Linked DNA regions of Homo sapiens: region 2 is linked to region 1. The links come from fine-mapping of genetic effects on gene expression. A gene starts in region 1. The other region holds a variant in brackets. All regions are shown on one strand. Distances are between the middles of the regions. Region 1 holds the start of YJU2 (YJU2 splicing factor homolog). Region 2 overlaps YJU2 (YJU2 splicing factor homolog).

The links. PIP is the estimated chance that this variant, and not a neighbour inherited with it, causes the effect.
Region 2: its variant is fine-mapped to the expression of YJU2 in whole blood (TOPMed, PIP 0.98).

What each region holds. Positions count from the first base shown.
Region 1 is chr19:4,242,005-4,250,992 of GRCh38, reverse strand. YJU2 (YJU2 splicing factor homolog) reads right to left here and starts at 3,913. Exons shown (of 8, transcript NM_018074.6): 1 at 3,823-3,913; 2 at 1,665-1,765. The coding sequence starts at 3,846. RefSeq lists enhancers at 3,754-3,843, 4,184-4,323, 4,082-4,853, 8,217-8,316, 8,467-8,516 and a silencer at 8,695-8,895.
Region 2 is chr19:4,265,858-4,274,845 of GRCh38, reverse strand. YJU2 (YJU2 splicing factor homolog) reads right to left here. Exons shown (of 8, transcript NM_018074.6): 7 at 7,072-7,222; 8 at 5,758-6,262. The coding sequence ends at 6,150. Among named protein-coding and RNA genes, the nearest start is that of SHD, 8.9 kb to the left of the region's middle. The variant T/C (reference allele first, on the strand shown) is at 3,812.

The DNA of each region.
Region 1 (8,988 bases):
GGGACGCTGGCTCCCACTGGCAGGCTGTCCCTGCGGCATCCTGCAAGATCACTGCTTGCTTGCCTCCAGCAACGGGGAGCTCCCTCCTTCAAGAGGCAGGCTGCCCCACCCTGTGTCCAAATTTCCTCTACCTGAGAACTTCGTGTTCTCATTCATATCTTCCTGGGGCTCAGTCCAAGGGTCGCCTGCTTGGGAAGCCCCCTGAGTAGGTGAGGCCTGCCTGTCATGCACTCCCAGAAGCAATCTTTGTGCTTACGGGGCACCCCACCCTCCAGGAGGAAAGATGCCACACAGAAAAATGCTGCCCCACCCCCCTCTTCCCCTCCTACTCCGGGCTCTGCTCCCCAGCCCAGCACGCCCGCCTCCTGTCTGATCCTGCAAACACCCCCAGCTCAGTCCCAGCTCAAGGCCTCTGCTCCTACAGTCTCATGGCCGGCGACACCCTTCATCCTCAGACCTCAGCGCCACCAGTATTTTGCCTGATGTCACCGTACCCCAGCTACCTATAGCCCTCCCTCCTGCGCCACTGCCCCAGGGGCTCTCTCCTGCCTGACTTCGGGGGCCCGTGCACCTGCCTGACTACCACTATTCTCCACTTCCCATTAGACTGTGGGCTCCATGAGGCCAGGGACTTTGTTCCTGGCGCTCGGCACAGACCCTGGCACACAGCAGGTGCCCAATAAATGAGTGTTGAATGAATAAATGAATGAATGAGGGGGAGGAGTAGACAGGCCAACAACACATGGGCATGAACCGAATTTCACTGACCCAGATGTCTCTTTCCTCGTTAGGTGCGTGATTTCAGATATGCTAGAGCATGAAAAGGTATGGGGTTGAGAGTTGGTGAAATACAGTAATTCTGAAGTGCTACAAAAGGCAAGATCTGGGCACCGTGAGGGGATGATGGAGGCCTCCCGGAGGGGTGAGATTGGAGCCATGACCTATGGCAGACAAGAGGAGCCTGCCATGTGTAAGTAGAAGGAGAAGGCCAGGTGCGGCAGCTCACGCCTGCAATCCCAGCACTTTGGGAGGCCAAGGAGGGCAGATCACCTGAGGTCAGGAGTTCGAGACCAGCTTGGCCAACATGGTAAAACACCAACTCTACTGAAAATACAAAAATTAGCCGGGCGTGGTGGTGCACGCCTGTAATCCCAGCTACTTGGGAGGCTGAGGCAGGAGAATCGCTTGAAGCCAGGAGGTGGAGGTTGCAGTGAGCTGAGATCACGCCACTGCACTCCAGCCTGGGCAACACGGCAAGACTCTGTCTCAACAAAAAAAAAAAAAGAAAGAAAGAAAGTAGAGGGAGAGAGTTCCAAGCAGGGGCAGCAGTGTGTGCAAAGGCCCTGGGGTAGGAACGAGCTTGGCTGTTGGAGGAGCTGAAATATATCTATGGGGCTGCATCTCTGTGGCGTCCTATCCTCTCTGCACACACGTTTACTAACCACCATGATCTCAAGGCAGGCACTGGCTGGAGGGCTCTAAAAGATCCAAAGCTTAATCCCAAGTGGTGAGGCGAAGGAGGGTTGGAATGGTCAATGTCTGAGCCAGGACAATGTCTAAGACCAGTGATCTGGTCTTAACACCGGACGAGTCACCTCTGTGGATGCCAGGCACTGCGTCCTTCAGCCATGACTGGTGTGTGGGGTCACGCAGGGGGTGCTCACCTCATGTTGAAGGGGGCCATCAGCCGCACCACGTACTGCCGGTCTTTGGGGAGCTTGAGTTTGGGGATCTTTGATGGGTCAAAGTCCGGCGGGTAGTATTTCTGCAGGGGAGGAAGGAAACGTTGGGGGAGTTATTTTCAGAAGCAGGGGCAGGACATGGCAGAGGGAAGGGGCTCTGGGGAGCTGTGTCGGGGGTCCCCAAGCCCACCCCAGGTTCCGCGACAGGCAGGGAGGACTCGCAGGACTCAGTACAGTCAGAGGGAGGCCAGGCACAAGCTTCCTGACTCTCTCCTAGTGGAGTTATACAGGACGCATTTAATTCTCCTAAATACCAGTCATGACAATACACATGAAATGCTGTCTACACGGGAAGCTCTAAAAAGCCAGGGTTTGTTTTTGTTTTTGTTCTGAGACGGAGTTTTGCTCTTGTTGCCCAGGCTGGAGTCCAGTGGCGCGATCTTGGCTCACTGCAACCTCCGCCTCCTGGGTTCAAGCGATTCTCCTGCCTCAGCCTCTACAGTAGCTGGGATTACAGGCGCCCACCACCACTCCCCGCTAATTTTTGTATTTTTAGTAGAGATGGGGTTTCACCATGTTGGCCAGGCTAGTCTCGAACTCCTGACCTCAGGTGATCCACCTGCCTTGGCCTCCCAAAGAGCTGGTATTACACACGTGAGCCATCATGCCCTGCCCTTTGTAGAGGTTAAGCTTTGCTTAGCACTTCTGTTGTTCAGGCAGGAGACCGAGTTCCCCGAGGAGTCCCAACTCCCCAGCAATTCTGTAGAGGGTAAACCAGGACTCTGTTAGCTCAGCCTCCCAATCACGATACTACATCCGTTTCCTACAGAGTCATCTCCCTGGATCTGAATCCTGAGGAGCTGAAACCTGCAGGGCTCAGTTTACTCCTCTGTGAAATGCGCACACTGTCCTCTGTCTCCAAGAGTCTTTGCACGCATTCCTTGAGGCAAGGGGGATAAAGTGCTCTTTGCAGTGTCTGGCACCCAGTAGGTGCTCCAAACACAAAGTGCTTTATTTTCCAGTGGTGCAGTGGAGGTATCTGTCATAATCCATACTCACACTCCCTTTGTATCCCAGGGCTCCTGTTTCCCAGGAGTTCCTACAGCAAGCCTGAGACTGCTCTCCTAGAAAGACCTGCGTGGGGCCGGGCGCGGTGGCTCACGCCTGTAATTCCAGCACTTTGGGAGTATGAGGTGGGTGGAATGCCTGAGATCAAGAGTTCAAAACCACCCTGGGCAACATGGTGAAATCTCATCTCTACTAAAATACAAAAAAAATTAACCAGGCATGGTGGCGGGCGCCTGCAGTCCCAGCTACTCAGGAGGCTGAGGCAGGAGAATCGCTTGAACCCAGGAGGCAGAAGCTGCAGTGAGCCAAGAACGTGCCACTGCACTCCAGCCTGGGAAGCAAGCGCAAAACTCCATCTCAAAAAACCAAAAAACAGAAGTGTGCCAACAGTATAGTTTATACTGAACCTCTGCTTTTCTTCTGGGAGTCTGGAATCTTGGCCACTGTCAGGCAGAGGTTATCTGCATGACCAGACCCCAGTAAAATCTTGGCCACTGTAAGGCAGAGGTTATCTGCATGACCAGACCCCAGTAAAAAAAACAAAACACACACACACACACACACACACACACACACACACACACACACACACACACACACACACACACACACACACACACACACACACACACACACACACACACACACACACACACACACGCGCCACCCCACCCCACCCCACCCAAAGTACACGATTGGTTACAGTCCCCAAGTGGGGCGGGGCTTCTCAGAGCCACGCCCCTCAAGAAGAGGGCAAAACACGGCCGCCAGCATTTAAGGAAGCCCCGCCCCCAGAAAAAAAACCCTATCTGGTGGTGATTGGGTAAAAGCCCAAGCCACGCCCCGCAGGTGACTAACTACACCCCAGCCCAGAAGGGAGACTTAGCGAAGGCCCACCCCCCCGACGGAAGGCGATGGGGAGGAGTCTAGGGAGGAGTCTGGGAAGCCCCATCTCGCGGAAGGCCGCTGGGAAAGAAGGGTTCCAAAGAAGAGATCTCAGGAAGCTCCTCCCTCTCCCGGAGTTCCGGGATGTCCTGCTCCGATTGAAAAGCCCCAGTCGCCCAACACTTACGTTTAATACTTTTCGCTCCGACATCTTTGCCTTCTGATCACCTCGCAAGCACCTGAGAAATGGTTAGGCTGGGTAATTATCGAGCTTTTCCGACGGAAGCCTTACTTCCGCAAACGTCACTTCCTTCGGCCGCTATTATTGGCTGCAGCATACACAGCAGACCTCTTTCATTGGTTCCAATCCCCGCCTATCAAGCTGGAAGTCCCAGCGTCTTCCCTCCGGAGTTGCAACCTGAGTAGCGCGAAATAAGGATTCCGGGAGCCATGTGGAATTGGAGAATTTTGTATAGTGCGCTGCGCCCCCTAGAAGCGGGCAGCGGCTCGTTAAAATTTTGTAACGTGACCTCTTGTTCTTCATTCTTTTATTCAGCAAATATGTATTATGCGCCTGCCTTGTATTCTGGGCTCTGGGAATCCACACATCGTTCCTGGGCCCGCAACTCTCACATGGGGTTGGGGCCACACATAGGGTGACTTAAGAGGACCCTGGACGACTCTTGAGTCACAGACATTGACTTAAAGATCAGGCTCCAAACCAACTTCCTAAACATACGCAGTGTCTCCCAAATGTCCCTCCATTGCCCACCTGTGCCTTCCCCTTAACGAGGACTTCCCATCCCATTCCTTCCCCAGCCTCCTTCCCCAGCCTCCTCCCCACCTTTCATGGACGTTTCCTCTGTGTCAGATTGTTCCAGGAAAGGGGTCCGGATCCAGACCCCAGGAGAGGGTTCTTGGATCTCGTGCAAGAAGGAATTCAGGGCGAGTCCACAGTGCAAAGCAAAAACAAGTTTATTTAGAAAGTAGATGAATAAAAGAATGGCTACTTCACAGACAAAGCAGCCCCAAGGGCTGGTGGTTGCCCATGTTTATGGTGATTTATTGATGATATGCTAAACAAGGGGTGGATTATTCATACCTCCCTTTTTTAGACCATATAGGGTAACTTCTTGATGTTGCTGTGGCAATTGTTTGTTTATTTATTTATCTTTTGAGGAGTCTTGCTCTGTTGCCCAGGCTGACGGGCAGTGGTGCGATCTTGGCTCACTGCAACCTCTGCCTCCAGTGGTGCGATCTTGGCTCACTGCAACCTCCACCTCAGGATTCAAGTGATTCTCCTGTCTCAACCTCCCGAGTAGCTGGGATTACAGGCACGCACCACCACACCTGCCTAATTTTTGTAGTTTTAGTAGAGATGGGGTTTCACCATTTTGGCCAGGCAGGTCTCGAACTCCTGACCTCAGGTGATCTGCTCGCCTCTGCCTCCCAAAGTGCTGGGATTACAGGCATGAGCCACTGCACCTGGCCAAAAATCAACTCCATCTTAAAATTAACAAGGCACATTCGCTGCCAGTCACGAGCCAGGGTCATAAGATGTTTACAATTGAGAAAACGTCTTACAAATGCCTAGGAGGACACACTACTACAACAATGGAAGGTCCAGATGTCCTGATATTGCATAGCAATGTATGCTTTTAAGATCGTTATAGTCGCCAGGCGCGGTGGCTCATGCCTGTAATCCCAGCACTTTGGGAGGCCAAGGAGGGTGGATCACCTGAGGTCAGGAGTTCGAGACCAGCCTGGTCACCATGGCCACCATGGTGGAACCCCATCTCTACTAAAAATACAAAAATTAGCCGGGCGTGGTGGCGGGAACCTGTAATCCCAGCTACTTGGGAGGCTGAGGCAGGAGAATTGCATGAACCCAGGAGGCTGAGGTTGCAGTGAACTGAGATCGAGATTGTGCCGCTGCCCTGTGGCCTGGGCGACAGAGTGAGACTCCATCTCAAAAAAAAAAAAAAAGAGAAAAAAAAGAAAAAGATACCGGGCATGGTGGCTTACGCCTGTAATCCCAGCACTTTGGGAGGCCGACGTGGGCGAATCACCTGAGGTCAGGAGTTCAAGACCAATCAGACCAACACGGAGAAACCCCGTCTCTACTAAAAATGCAAAATTAGCCAGGTGCGGTGGTGCAGGTCGAGAGTTCAAGACCAACCAGACCAACATGAAGAAATCTTGTCTCTACTAAAAATACAAAATTAGCCGGGCATGGTGGTGCATGCCTGTAATCCCAGCTGCTTGGGAGGCTGAGGCAGGAGAATCACTTGAACCTGGGAGGCAGAGGTTGCGGTGAGTCGATATGGCGCCATTGCACTCCAGCCTGGGTGACAAGAGTGAAACTCCATCTCAAAAAAAAAAAAAGAAAATATGGTTATAGTCATGGTGTAATGTACTTAGGCACTAAAATGGCAAGGATATGTATGTATACTTTTTGAGACAGGGTCTCGCTCTGTCACCTAGGCTGGAGTGCAGTAACGCAATCATGGCTCTCTGTGGCCTCCACTTCCCGGCTCAGGCGATCCCCCACCTCAGCCTTCCGAGTTAGCTGGAACTATAGGTACCACCACACCTGGCTAATATTTGGCAGTTTTTGTAGAGACAGGGTTTCGCCATGTTGCCCAAGCTGGTCTGGAAATCCTGGGCTGAAGTGATCTGCCGGCCTCGGCCTACCAAAGTGTTACAATTACAGGTGTGAGCCACTGCACCCAGCCAGGATAACTTTCTTTAAGTCGACAAAGTACTACGTTTTGTCACGCGGTCAGCCCACCTACACGTGGACATAGCTTTCACACAGATAAGACCCCTATATAAGAAAAAACCGGTTGTACATGGTGGCTCACACCTGTAATCCCAACACTTTGGGAGGCCGAGGTGGGAGGATCACTTGAGCTCAGGAGTTCAAGGCCAGCCTGGCCAACACGGTAAAACCTCGTCTCTACTAAAAATATAAAAATTAGCTGGGCGCAGTGGTACATGCCTGAATCCCAACTACTCAGGAGACTGAAGCAGGAGAATCGCTTGAACCTGGCAGGTGGAGGTTGCAGTGAGCCAAGATCGTGCCAAGATCGTGCCATTGTACCTGGGTGACAGAGCAAGACTCCATCTCAAAAATAAATCAATAAATAAAATAAAAATAAAAACCTTAAAACAAAGACAAGGCGTTCCTCCTCTTGTTTTCTGAGGACGCCCTACTTTGTAACTGAGTAGCCTTCCTTTTTTTTTTTTTTTTTTTTTTTTTTTGAGGAGTTTTGCTCTTGTTGCCCGGGCTGGAGTGCAATGGTACAATCTCGGCTCACCGCAACCTCCGTCTCCCAGGTTCAAGCTATTCTCCTACCTCAGCCTCCCAAGTAGCTGGGATTAAAAGCATGTGCCACCACGTCCGGCTAATTTTGTATTTTTAGTAGAGACGGGGTTTCTCCATGTTGGTCAGGCTGGTCTTGAACTCCTGAGGTGTTCAAGAGGTGATCCACCCACCTCAGCCTCCCAAAGTGCTGGGATTACAGGTGTGAGCCACCACACCCAGCTAGGGACCCCTTTTCCTGGCACCAGGAAGACAATAATATGGGACAAGGAATGGTGTTAAATAAAGTTTACAGGAAGCCATGGGTTTGGACTGAGCTCCTGCACTAGGCCCAAAAGACTAAACCAAAATGAAGTCCCTCATGCGGAAGTTTTACACCAAGCTGAAACTAAGTTGTTTTTCTGGTTTTCCAAGAAATCGAGAACTGGAAGGAAGTGGGGAGAGAGAGAGAGAGAGGGAGAGAGAGAAAGAGAGGGAATAGTCAAATCCATGAACAGAGGCAGGCAGATCACCTGAGCTCGGGAGTTCAAGACCAGCCTGGCCAACATGGCGAAACCCCGTTTCCACTAAAATACAAAAAATTAGCGGGGTGCGGTGGTGGGTGCCTGTAATCCCAGCTACTTGGGAGGCTGACTCACGAGAATTGCTTGAACCTGGGAGGCGGAGATTGCAGTGAGCCCAGATCATGCCACTGCACTCCAGCCTAGGCAACAGAACCAGATTCTGTCTCAAAAAAAAAAAAAAAAAGGCCAGGCACTGTGGCTCATGCCTGTAATCCCTGCACTTTGGGAGGCGGGTGGATAACGAGGTCAGGAGATTGAGACCATCCTGGCCAACATGGTGAAACCCTGTCTCTACTAAAAATACAAAGATTAGCTGGGCAGGGTGGCACACGCCTGTAGTCCCAGCTACTTGGGAGGCTGAGGCAGGAGAATCGCTTGAACCCGGGAGGTGGAGGCTGCAGTGAGCCAAGATTGTGCCACTACACTCCAGCCTGGGTGACAGAGCGAGACTGTCTCAAAAAAAAAAAAAAAAAAAAATCCCTGAACAGGCCTGTTTTAGCCAGCACGATAGTCTCCTTTGCTCTAAACTTGACAAGAAAAGTAACTTTGAAAAGACCAATCCACTTTTTGTTTTCTATTTCTGCTTTACTCAGCCTTTTTCTGTCTATAAAACCAACCTCTTTTTCAGTGAGCTGAGATCACCACTGCACTCCAGCCTGGGCAACAAGAGTGAAACTCCGTCTCAAAATAAATAAATAAAACCTGCTTTGCAAAAGTGGAAGGTTTGGCCGGGCATGGTGCCTCATTCCTGTAATCCCAGCACTTTGGGAGGCTGAGGCGGGTTGATCATGAGGTCAGGAGTTCAAGACCAGCCTGGCCAACATGGGGAAACCCCATCTCTACTAAAAATACAAAAATTAGCCGGGTGTGATGATGGGCACCTGTAGTCCCAGCTACTTGGGAGGCAGAGGCAAGAGAATCATTTGAATCCAGGAGGCGGAGGTTACAGTCAGCCAAGACCACGCCACTGCCCCCCAGCCTGGGTGACAGAGAGAGACTCTGTCTCGGGAAAAAAAAAAAATGGAAGGTTTAACAGACTTTAAAAAAGAAAGAAAAAGAACCCCTAATGTTGTCTGCTCAGCTCATGGAAACATTCTGAAACTGGTCCAATTGTTCCATAAAACGAATACTTATGATTATTTGAATAAACACAGAAATGGATCCTCCCTAGTCTTAAAACTTGAAACTTACATTTGTCTCATCTCAGTTCCTTCCTCAGGAAACTGACCATCAGGCAAGGAACTGAAACTCATCAGATCATCACATCCAGACAATGAGAGGCCAGACCCCATCATCCATCAAGATTACTTCCTTAACACCCTCCCTGAATTTGTTTTCTCCCATTCCCCAGCTATATAAACTCCCCAATTTTAGTTGGTCAGGGAGACATATGAGACTTTACCACCCCTTCTCATTGACTGCAGCGGCAGGATAAAGCATTCCTCCCTGGCAATCCTTGTTGCCT
Region 2 (8,988 bases), 24 kb before region 1:
CAGGTGAGAGCCACTGCACCCAGCCATCTTTATTTTTTTTTTTTGAGACAGAGTCTCACTCTGTTGCCTAGGCTAGAGTGCAGTGGCACAATCTTGGCCCACTGCAACTTCCGCCTCCTGGGTTCAAGCGATTCTCCTGCCTTAGCCTCCCAAGTAGCTGGGACTACAGGTGTGTGCCACTGCACTTAGCTAATTTTTTATTTTTAGTAGAGACAGGATTTCACCACATTGGCCAGGCTGGTCTTGAACTCCTGACCTCCGGTGATATGCCAGCCTTGGCCTCCCAAAGTGCTGGGATGACAGGCGTGAGCCACTGCGCCTGGCCAGCTCTGCCTTTTTTTTTTTTGAGATGGAGTTTCACTCTTGTTGCCCAGGCTGGAGTGCAGTGGCATGACCTTGGCTCACTGCAACCTCCCGCTTCCTGTTTCAAGCGATTCTCCTGCCTCAGTCTCTGGAGTAGCTGGGATTACAGGTGCATGCCACCATGCCTGGCTAAGTTTTGTACTTTTAGTAGAGACGGGGTTTCACCATGTTGGCCAGGCTGGTGTTGAACTCCTGACCTTGTGATCCGCCCGCCTTGGCCTCCCAAAGTGCTGGGATTACAGGCATGAGCCACTGTGCCTAGCCAGCTCTGTCTTTTTTTTTTTTTTTTTTTTGAGACAGAGTTTCGCTCTGTCGTCCAAGCTGGAGTGCAGTGGCGCAATCTTGGCTTCATTGTGTTAGCCAGGATGGTCTCGATCTCCTGATCTCGTGATCCGCCCGCCTCGGCCTCCCAAAGTGCTGGGATTACAGGCGTGAGCCACTGCACCTGGCCAGCTCTGCCTTTCTTAACTCACGGTCTGATGGCAGAGGCATGGCCTTGTCCACAGAAGCCCCCAGTCTGATGGAAGAGTTGCGGCTCTGACTTCAGGAGCTTCCATTTGATGGGAGAGATATGGCCCTACCTTGAGGGGTTCCCACTCTGAGGAAGGAGACGTGAACCTATCTTCAGTCTGATGGGGGAGGCAGGTTCAACCTTCAACGGTCCCCTGTCTAATGCAGGAGACATAGTCTTGACTTCCAGGGTCCCAGAGTAATGGAGGAGACATAGGCCTGCCTTCAAGAGTCCCCAGTCTGATGAGGGAGGCATAGTCCAAACTTCAAGCGTCCCCAGTCTGATGGGGGAGGTATGGTGTAAATTTCAAGGGCCCAGTCCAACACAGGAGGCATGGCCCTAACTAACTTACAAGGTCCCAGTCTGCTGGAGGAGAAGCGAGCCTTCCTTCTAGGGGCCCCTACCTGATGGGGGAGGCATGATCCAGCCCTTCCAGGGCTCCAGTCTGACACGCAGGCACAGCCCAGCTCTTGGGGTTGCAGTGGGGTGGGTGACCAAAGGCGTAGCCTCGGAGCCTGGAGCTTCATACCCAGGCCCTGTCCCTCCCTCACCCTGGAGGTCGAGGAGTCTCCCTTACCTGTAAATGGGGCAGCAACAGAGCGTGTGCCCGGGGGGTGTTTGTGGACTGAGTGGGTGGTGTCACCCCATTCCCAGATAAGGAAACAGGCTCAGGGAGCCCCAAGTTCACACTGGAACTGGCAAAAGCTGGGGAAATGGCATGGCCCCTCTTCTCCTGTAAGCCCAGGCTGGGGCGGCAGTGGGCTCCAGCAGAAGGGGCCCCCATCGCCCCTCCTCCCCATCCCTCTGATGTGCTCCAGCAGCCAGGCAGCCCCGGAGGAGTTGATGGAGATCTCAGATGAAGGCTGACAGCTCCCGAAGACAGGATGACAGACGCGGGCTGGTGGGGAACGGGTACTGTCGGCAGGGATAGGGGAAGGGCAGGCTTCAGAGGGTGAGGGTAGGGGGCCCTGAGAGGTGGGGCAGGGCAGGGAGGGGTCCCCCGCTGGTCAGGAGGGACAGAGCCCGATGCATGGCTGTGCCTGCCCCTCTACTCCCTCAGTCCTGGGAACCCCCAGGAGAGAACTGGGGGCTGAGAGCAGAATTGCCCCCAGGACACAGGGTGAGAGAACAAAGCTTCTCAGGGGAAAAAAAAAAGAAATAAAAATAAAATTCCAGTGGTGTATGAAAGAGTGGGGTGTGAGAGGGGAGGAGGTGAAACCTGGGGCTCCCTGAGCCTGTTTCCTCATTGGGGAATGGGGTGATGCCCCCTCAACCCATTTGCGAGCACCCACGATGTGCCAGCTGGTTTTGGGGTGCTGGGGTGCACCAATTTTTTTGAGATGGAGTCTCACTCTGTTGTCCAAGCTGGATGGAGTGCAATGGCATAATCTTGGCTCACTGCAACCTCTGCCTCCCGGGTTCAAGTTATTCTCCTGCCTCGGCCTCTGGAGTAGCTGGGATTACAGGCACCTGCCCCATGCCCGGCTAATTTTTGTATTTTTAGTAGAGACAGAGTTTCACCATGTTGGGCAGGCTGGTCTCAAACTCCTGACCTCAGGTGATACACCTACCTCAGCCTCTGAAAGTGCTGGGATTACAGGTGTGAACCGCTGCGCCCGGCCCGAATAAACTTCTACTGTTTATAATTTACCCAGTCTGTGGTGTTCTGTGAAAGCAGCAGCAAATGGACAAAGACACAAGCTGCAGACAAGGTCTGTGTAGGTAAGAAACTGAGAGTGTTTTCTGGCCAACAGCCATGAGGGACTGAATTCTGTCAACAACCACAAAGGTTTGGCAGCAGGTCCTTCCCCAGTTGAGCCTTCAGATGACACCCCAGCCTGGGCCTGTGTCTTTTTTTTTTTTTTTTCTTTGAGACGGGAGTCTCGCTCTGTCCCCCTGGCTGGAGTGCAGTGGTGCAATCTTGGCTCACTGCAACCTCTGCCTCCTGGGTTCAAGTGATTCTCCTGTCTCAGCCTCCCAAGTAGCTGGAATTACAGGCATGTACCACCATGCCCAACTAATTTTTGTACTTTTTTGTAGTGACAGGGTTTTGCCATGTTGGCCAGGCTGGTCTTGAACTCATGACCTCAAGTGATCCGCCCGCCTCGGCCTGTGAAAGTGGTGGGATTACAGCCATGAGCCACTGCGCCCAGCCTGGCCTCTGTCTTGATTGCATTCTTGCTAAACCTTAAAGCGGGAGACCCAATGAAACCACACCCAGCTCTATGTTGTTTTTAAGTTGTTCAGTTTTGGTATAATTTGTTATGCAGCACCAGAAAACAAACAGAGGGAGAGATGGGCAATAAACACGTTCCCAAGGCATCCCCTCTGCATCTCCTTAGAACACACTCACCTGCTTTATTTTCACCACCTTCGGTATACATTATTTATATGTTATTGTAAAAATATATAATACATAAAAGTTTTTTGGGGGCCGGGTGCGGTAGCTCACGCCTGTAATCCCAGCAGTTTGGGAGCTGAGGCGGGCGAATCACTTGAGGTCAGGAGTTCGAGACCAGCCTGGCAACATGGCAAAACCCCATCTCTACTAAAAATACAAAAATTAAGCCAGGCAGGGTGGCGCGTGCCTGTCATCCCAGCTACTCTGGAGGCTGAGGCAGGAGAATCGCTTGAACCCGGGAGGCGGAGGTTGCAGTGAGCCGAGATCCTGCCACTGCACTCCAGCGGGGGTGATAGAGTGAGATGCTGTCTCAAAAAAAAAAAAAATTAAAATTAAAATAAGAACGGGTGTTGGAAGTGGGAGTTCAACTTTGTTTCTGCCAAATGCTCAGGGAACATTTGATAAACACAGGTTCCTTCCTTCCCTCTGCCAACTCCTTCTGCTGCCCCCGCCGAGGAGGGGAACTTCCCAGCCAGAGCTTTCTACTCATAAAGCCAGTGAGTCCCATCCTTGTTGAGTATGTAGAGCGCAGCCCC[T/C]TTGAAGGCAAATTGTAGCATCTTTTTTTTTAATTAATTATTTTTTGAGATGGAATCTCACTCTGTTGCCCAGGCTGGAGTGCAGTGGCATGATCTCAGCTCACTGCAACCTCCACCTTCCAGGTTCAAGTGATCCTCCTGCCTCAGCCTACCAATTAGCTGGGATTACAGGTGCCCGCCACCACATCTGACTAATTTTTTTATTTTTAGTGGGGGTGGTGGGAGTCTCACCATGTTGGCCAGGCTGGTCTTGAACTCCTGACCTCAGGTGATCTGCCCGCCGTGGCCTCCCAAAGTGCTGGGATTACATGCGTGAGCCACCGTGCCCCACCTTTCTTTAAAAAAAGACAAATTGAGAAACGGTCTGGCCATGTTGCCCAGTCTGGACTCGACCTCCTGTCTTCAACCAACCCTCCTGCCTCAGCCCCCCAAAGTCCTGGGATTACAGGAACATGCCACAGTTCCTGTCCTGGGCCTAGCTCCCCACCCCCCTCCCCCTTTTTCAGGCAGGATCTTGGTCTCTCACCAAGGCTGGAGTGCAGTGGTACAGTTACACCTCACTGCAGCCTCAATCTCCCGGGCTCAAGTGATCCTCCCACCTCAGCCTCCCAAGTAGCTGGGATTCCAGGCCTGAGCCACCACACCCGGCTGGAATTCCATTATTTATGCCAGAGTTCAGCCTTCACCTACTGGGGACATTGGGTTCGTTCCCCATAATGTTGCTGCTAAACACAGTGTCACGACAAACCTCCTCGTGGGTGTTTCCTTATGAATGTGGGCAAATACCTCTTAGAACAGACAGCCAGAAATGGAACTGCCTACTCAAAGAAGGTTCATATTGTTCACTTTAAAAGATTCCAGGCTGGTGCAGTGTCTCACGCCTGTAATCCCTGCACTTTGGGAGGCTGAGGCAGTCAGATCACCTGAGGTCAGGAGTTCAAGACCAGCCTGGCCAAGATGGTGAGACCCGTCTCTACTAAAAACACAAAAATTAGCTGGGCGTGGTGGCAGGCACCTGTAATCCCAGCTGCTGGGGAGGCTGAGGCAGAGAATTGCTTGAACCTGGGAGGTGGAGGTTGCAGTGAGCCAAGATCACACCACTGCACTCTAGCCTGGGCAACAGAGGGAGACTCTGTCTCAAACAAACAAACAAAAAGATTGTACAGGCAGGGCACAATGGCTCAGGCCTGTAATCTTAGCACTTTGGGAGGCTGAGGCAGGCAGATCACCTGAGGTCAGGAGTTCAAGACCAGCCTGGCCAACATGGTGAAACCCTGTCTCTACTAAAAATACAAAAATTAAGCCAGGCGTGGTGGCGGGCGCCTGTAATCCCAGCTACTCTGGAGGCTGAGGCAGGAGAATCGCTTGAACCCGGGAGGCGGAGGTTGCAGTGAGCCAAGATCGCGCCATCGCACTCCAGCCTGGGGGACAAGAGCGAGACGTCGTCTCCAAAAAAAAAAAAAAAAAAAAAAGGTAAAGAAAGAAAAAAAAAAAGAAGAGAAAACAAAAAGAGCCCAGATGCACACTCAGGCGACAACTAAATATAAATATCTGGGCTCATGCCTGTTACAGTGGCTTATGCCTGTGACCCCAGCACTTTGTGAGGCTGAGGCAGGAGGATCACTTGAGCCCATGAGTTCAAGATCAGCCTGGGCAACATGATGAAACCCAGTCTCTACTAAATATACAAAAAGTTAGCCAGGAATGGTGGCATCCACCTGAGGTCTCAGCGACTCGCGAGGCTGAGGTGGGAGGATCACCTGAGCTCGGAAGTTCAAGGCTGCAGTGAGTCAAGAATACGCTACCGCACTCCAGCCTGGGCAACAGAGTGAGATCCTGTCTCAAGACACAAACAAACCTCTGTGGAATGACCCTCGAATTGTGCTAACAGAGGAGGTCCTGGGACCTCCTCATCAGACTCTGGGAGAGAGAAGGGGCCCAGGCGGTTGGCAGGTTTCCTTTTATTGGTTCTAGACAGTTTGTGGAAGGAAGAGATGAGGCCATCTAGAGGCCGGCAGGCTCGCCCAGTGCCCCAAACACTGCCACCCTGAAGTAGTGTTGGAAGCTGCTCCAGGGATGTTGCAGCCCTAAGCACAGTGACAGGTGGGGGCAGGAGCAGCAGGGGTCCCCGAGGTGTTGAGAGGCTGGTGAGGGCACAGAGAAGGGACCTCCTGGGGCTGAGGCCCCTGGTGGCCCTATGTGTTGGAGCACGCTGGCGCTTGTCTGTCCGGCCTCCAGTCACGCCAAGGCCTCCTGCCCTGACCACCAGCAATGCTGGCCTCAATGTGGCTGAAGCTGGACGTGTGACTTTGACCCCGTGAGGGGGTCCTGGGAGGGCTCAGTTGCTGCCGTTGCTGTCGTCACTGTCCAGGTATGCACCCAGTTGGCTCAGGGAGGACGCGCCAGGCGTCAGGGGTGTAGGGTTGGCCTCCTTCCTGTTCTGCGGGGCTCCTGGTGGGAGAGCGAGAGTTAGCTCATCTCAGCTCCACAGCAGACAGGCCAGGGACAAGGCACGGGGCCGGCCACCTCTGCAGGTTTGCAAGGTCCAGAGGTGACAGCATGTGAATGGCCTGGCCTTTCTGGATGGCACCTGATGGGACCCATTGCAGATTTACATCTGCACACCCGGGACTCAACAGCTCCGCTTCTGAACAATGGCCAATGCAAACCTTGCCCAGGCAGGCAACGTGCGCTGCCAAGAATGGAAATGGCGCAAAGTTCACAGTCCAGTCACTGTGGACTTAATCGCCTTAGGAAACATCATACTAAGGCAACTAAAAGACAAAAACAGGCCGGGCGCGGTGGCTCATGCCTGTAATCCCAGCATTTTGGGAGGCCGAGGTGAGTGGATCACCTGAGGTCGGGAGTTCCAGACCAGCCTGACCAACATGGAGAAATCCCACCTCTACTAATAATACAAAAATTTAGCCGGGCGTGGTGCTGTAGTCCCAGCTACTTGGGAGGCTGAGGCAGAGAACTGCTCAAACCAGGGAGGCGGAGGTTGCGGTGAGCCGAGATGGCACCACTGCACTCCAGCCTGGGCAACAGAGCAAGACTCTGTCTCAAAAAAAAAAAAAGAAAAAAGAAAAAAGAAAAAAAGAAGCCGCCTGCCTTCTCTGCTCACTCCACTAATTGGTCCTGTGGGGGTCGCAGGCCGCCCCCACCCACCCCATGAAGTCTCTGTAACTGCAAAGGGAGCTGCTGCCACCTACAGGCCACTATAGAAACCGCGCCCGGCTCTGGGAACTCTGTGACCTTACCTGGGGTGGGGGCCGCCTGAGGCTGCCCGTTGCTGCAGTCCGGGTCGGCCTTTGCCTTCTTCACCACGACCAGCCTCGACAGCGGGGGCCGGCTGCCCAGGCTGCCAACGCTCTGCTCCCAGACCTCCACCTTCCTCTTGGGCTTTGGGGCCTGCAGGTGATGGGGACACATGTGGGGGTCTGGCCCGGATCCAGGGCCCAGTCTGGCCCCTCGCCACAACCCCTGCTCACTGCCCCATGCCCACTCTTCCACTGCTGCACTGACCACATTCCTCCTCTGCTCTAAACTCCTCTATGGCTCCCCACTGCCCTAGGCTTGGCACTCAAGGCCTCTGCCCATTCTCCATCCCACATAGCCTGGTCTGGCACTTCCTGAGTCACACCATGGCTTCTCATCTCCACGCCTTTACCCATGCTATTCCCTTCACCAGGGATGCCCCCTTTTCCATGCACTCGCTTGGTGAACTCCTACTCACCCTTCAATACCCAACACAAGACACCCCTCCTCTGAGAAGCCCATCATGGTTCAAGCTCACATGCAGGCTGCATGTCCACGCTCACAGTGCCCTCTGCTGGCTGTTATAACTCTCTCCCCAACTCTGCCGTGAGCTCCTGTCTTCCCCACTGCTGGCTCTGCGGTGCCACAAACAGTTCCTGGCACAAGGAGGTGCTCAATGTACTTGAGAGAACGAGTGAAAATGGAGGAAGCCGCCTTGAGAAAGAGTTAGGGGCAGGTAGAAAAGGCCTCCAGCTCCTTAACTGCAACAGAAGGGACCCTTTAATCTATATTATTAAAAAAATTTTTTTGGGGGGAAGGTCTCACTCTATTGCCCAGGCTGGAGTGCAGTGGTGCAATCATAGCTCACTGCAGCCTCGAACTCCTGGGCTCAAGCGATTCTCCTGCCTCAGCCTCCTGCAGGTGCACGCCACCATGGCAGGCTAACATTTTTAATTTTTGTAGAGACGGGATCTCGCTATGTTGCCCAGGCTGGTCTCAAACTCCTGGCTCAAGCGATCCTCCCGTCTCAGCGTCCCAAAGAGCTGGGATGACAGGCGTGAGCCACTGCATCTAGCCTCTTCAATCTGTTTTATGTTTAAATAGAGGAAGTGGTAACCACTGGGTTAAGGAAGTCCCAATGGGTGCTCTGCCCTCACGGAGCTCACCGTGTGGGGAGGGAGAGGGACAAGGAGACCAATACCCAGGATAACATCCATCTGGGTGAGAGAGAAGCCAGGGTGCGTGAGCTTGAATTGTGAGGATGAGCTTCTCAGAGGAAGGGCGTCTTGCATTGGGTATTGAAGGGCGAGTAGGAGTTCACCAAGCGAGTGCTTGGCAAAGGGGGCATCCCAGGTAAGGGGAATGGCATGGGTAAAGGCGTGATGAGAAGCCACAGTGTGATTCAGGAAGTGCCAGGGCAGGCTAGGTGGGATGGAGAATGGGCAGAGACCTTGAGTGCCAAGCTGACGGTGTGAGGGGCGGCCACTGCTAAGGTGGTGGAGAGGCCTCCTTAAAGTTGTGGCTCTGGGCCGGGCGCAGTGGCTCATGCTTCTAATCCCGGCACTTTGGGAGGCCAAGGCAGGTGGATCACGAGGTCAGATAGAGACCATCCTGGCTAACACGGTGAAAGCCCGTCTCTACTATAAATACAAGAAATTAGCCAGGCTTGGTGGCACACGCCTGTAATCCCAGCTACTCGGGAGACTGAGGCAGGAGAATCGCTTGAACCTGGGAGGCAGAGGTTGCAGTGAGCCGAGATCGTGCCACTGCACTCCAGCCTGGGTGACAGGGCGAGACGCCGTCTCGAAAAAAAAAAAAAAAAATGTCGTAGCTCTGGGCTGATGTCAAAATGAGGAAAAGAAGTCAAAAGGCACAGATGGCCAGGCACAGAGGCACACACCTGTAATCCCAACACTTTG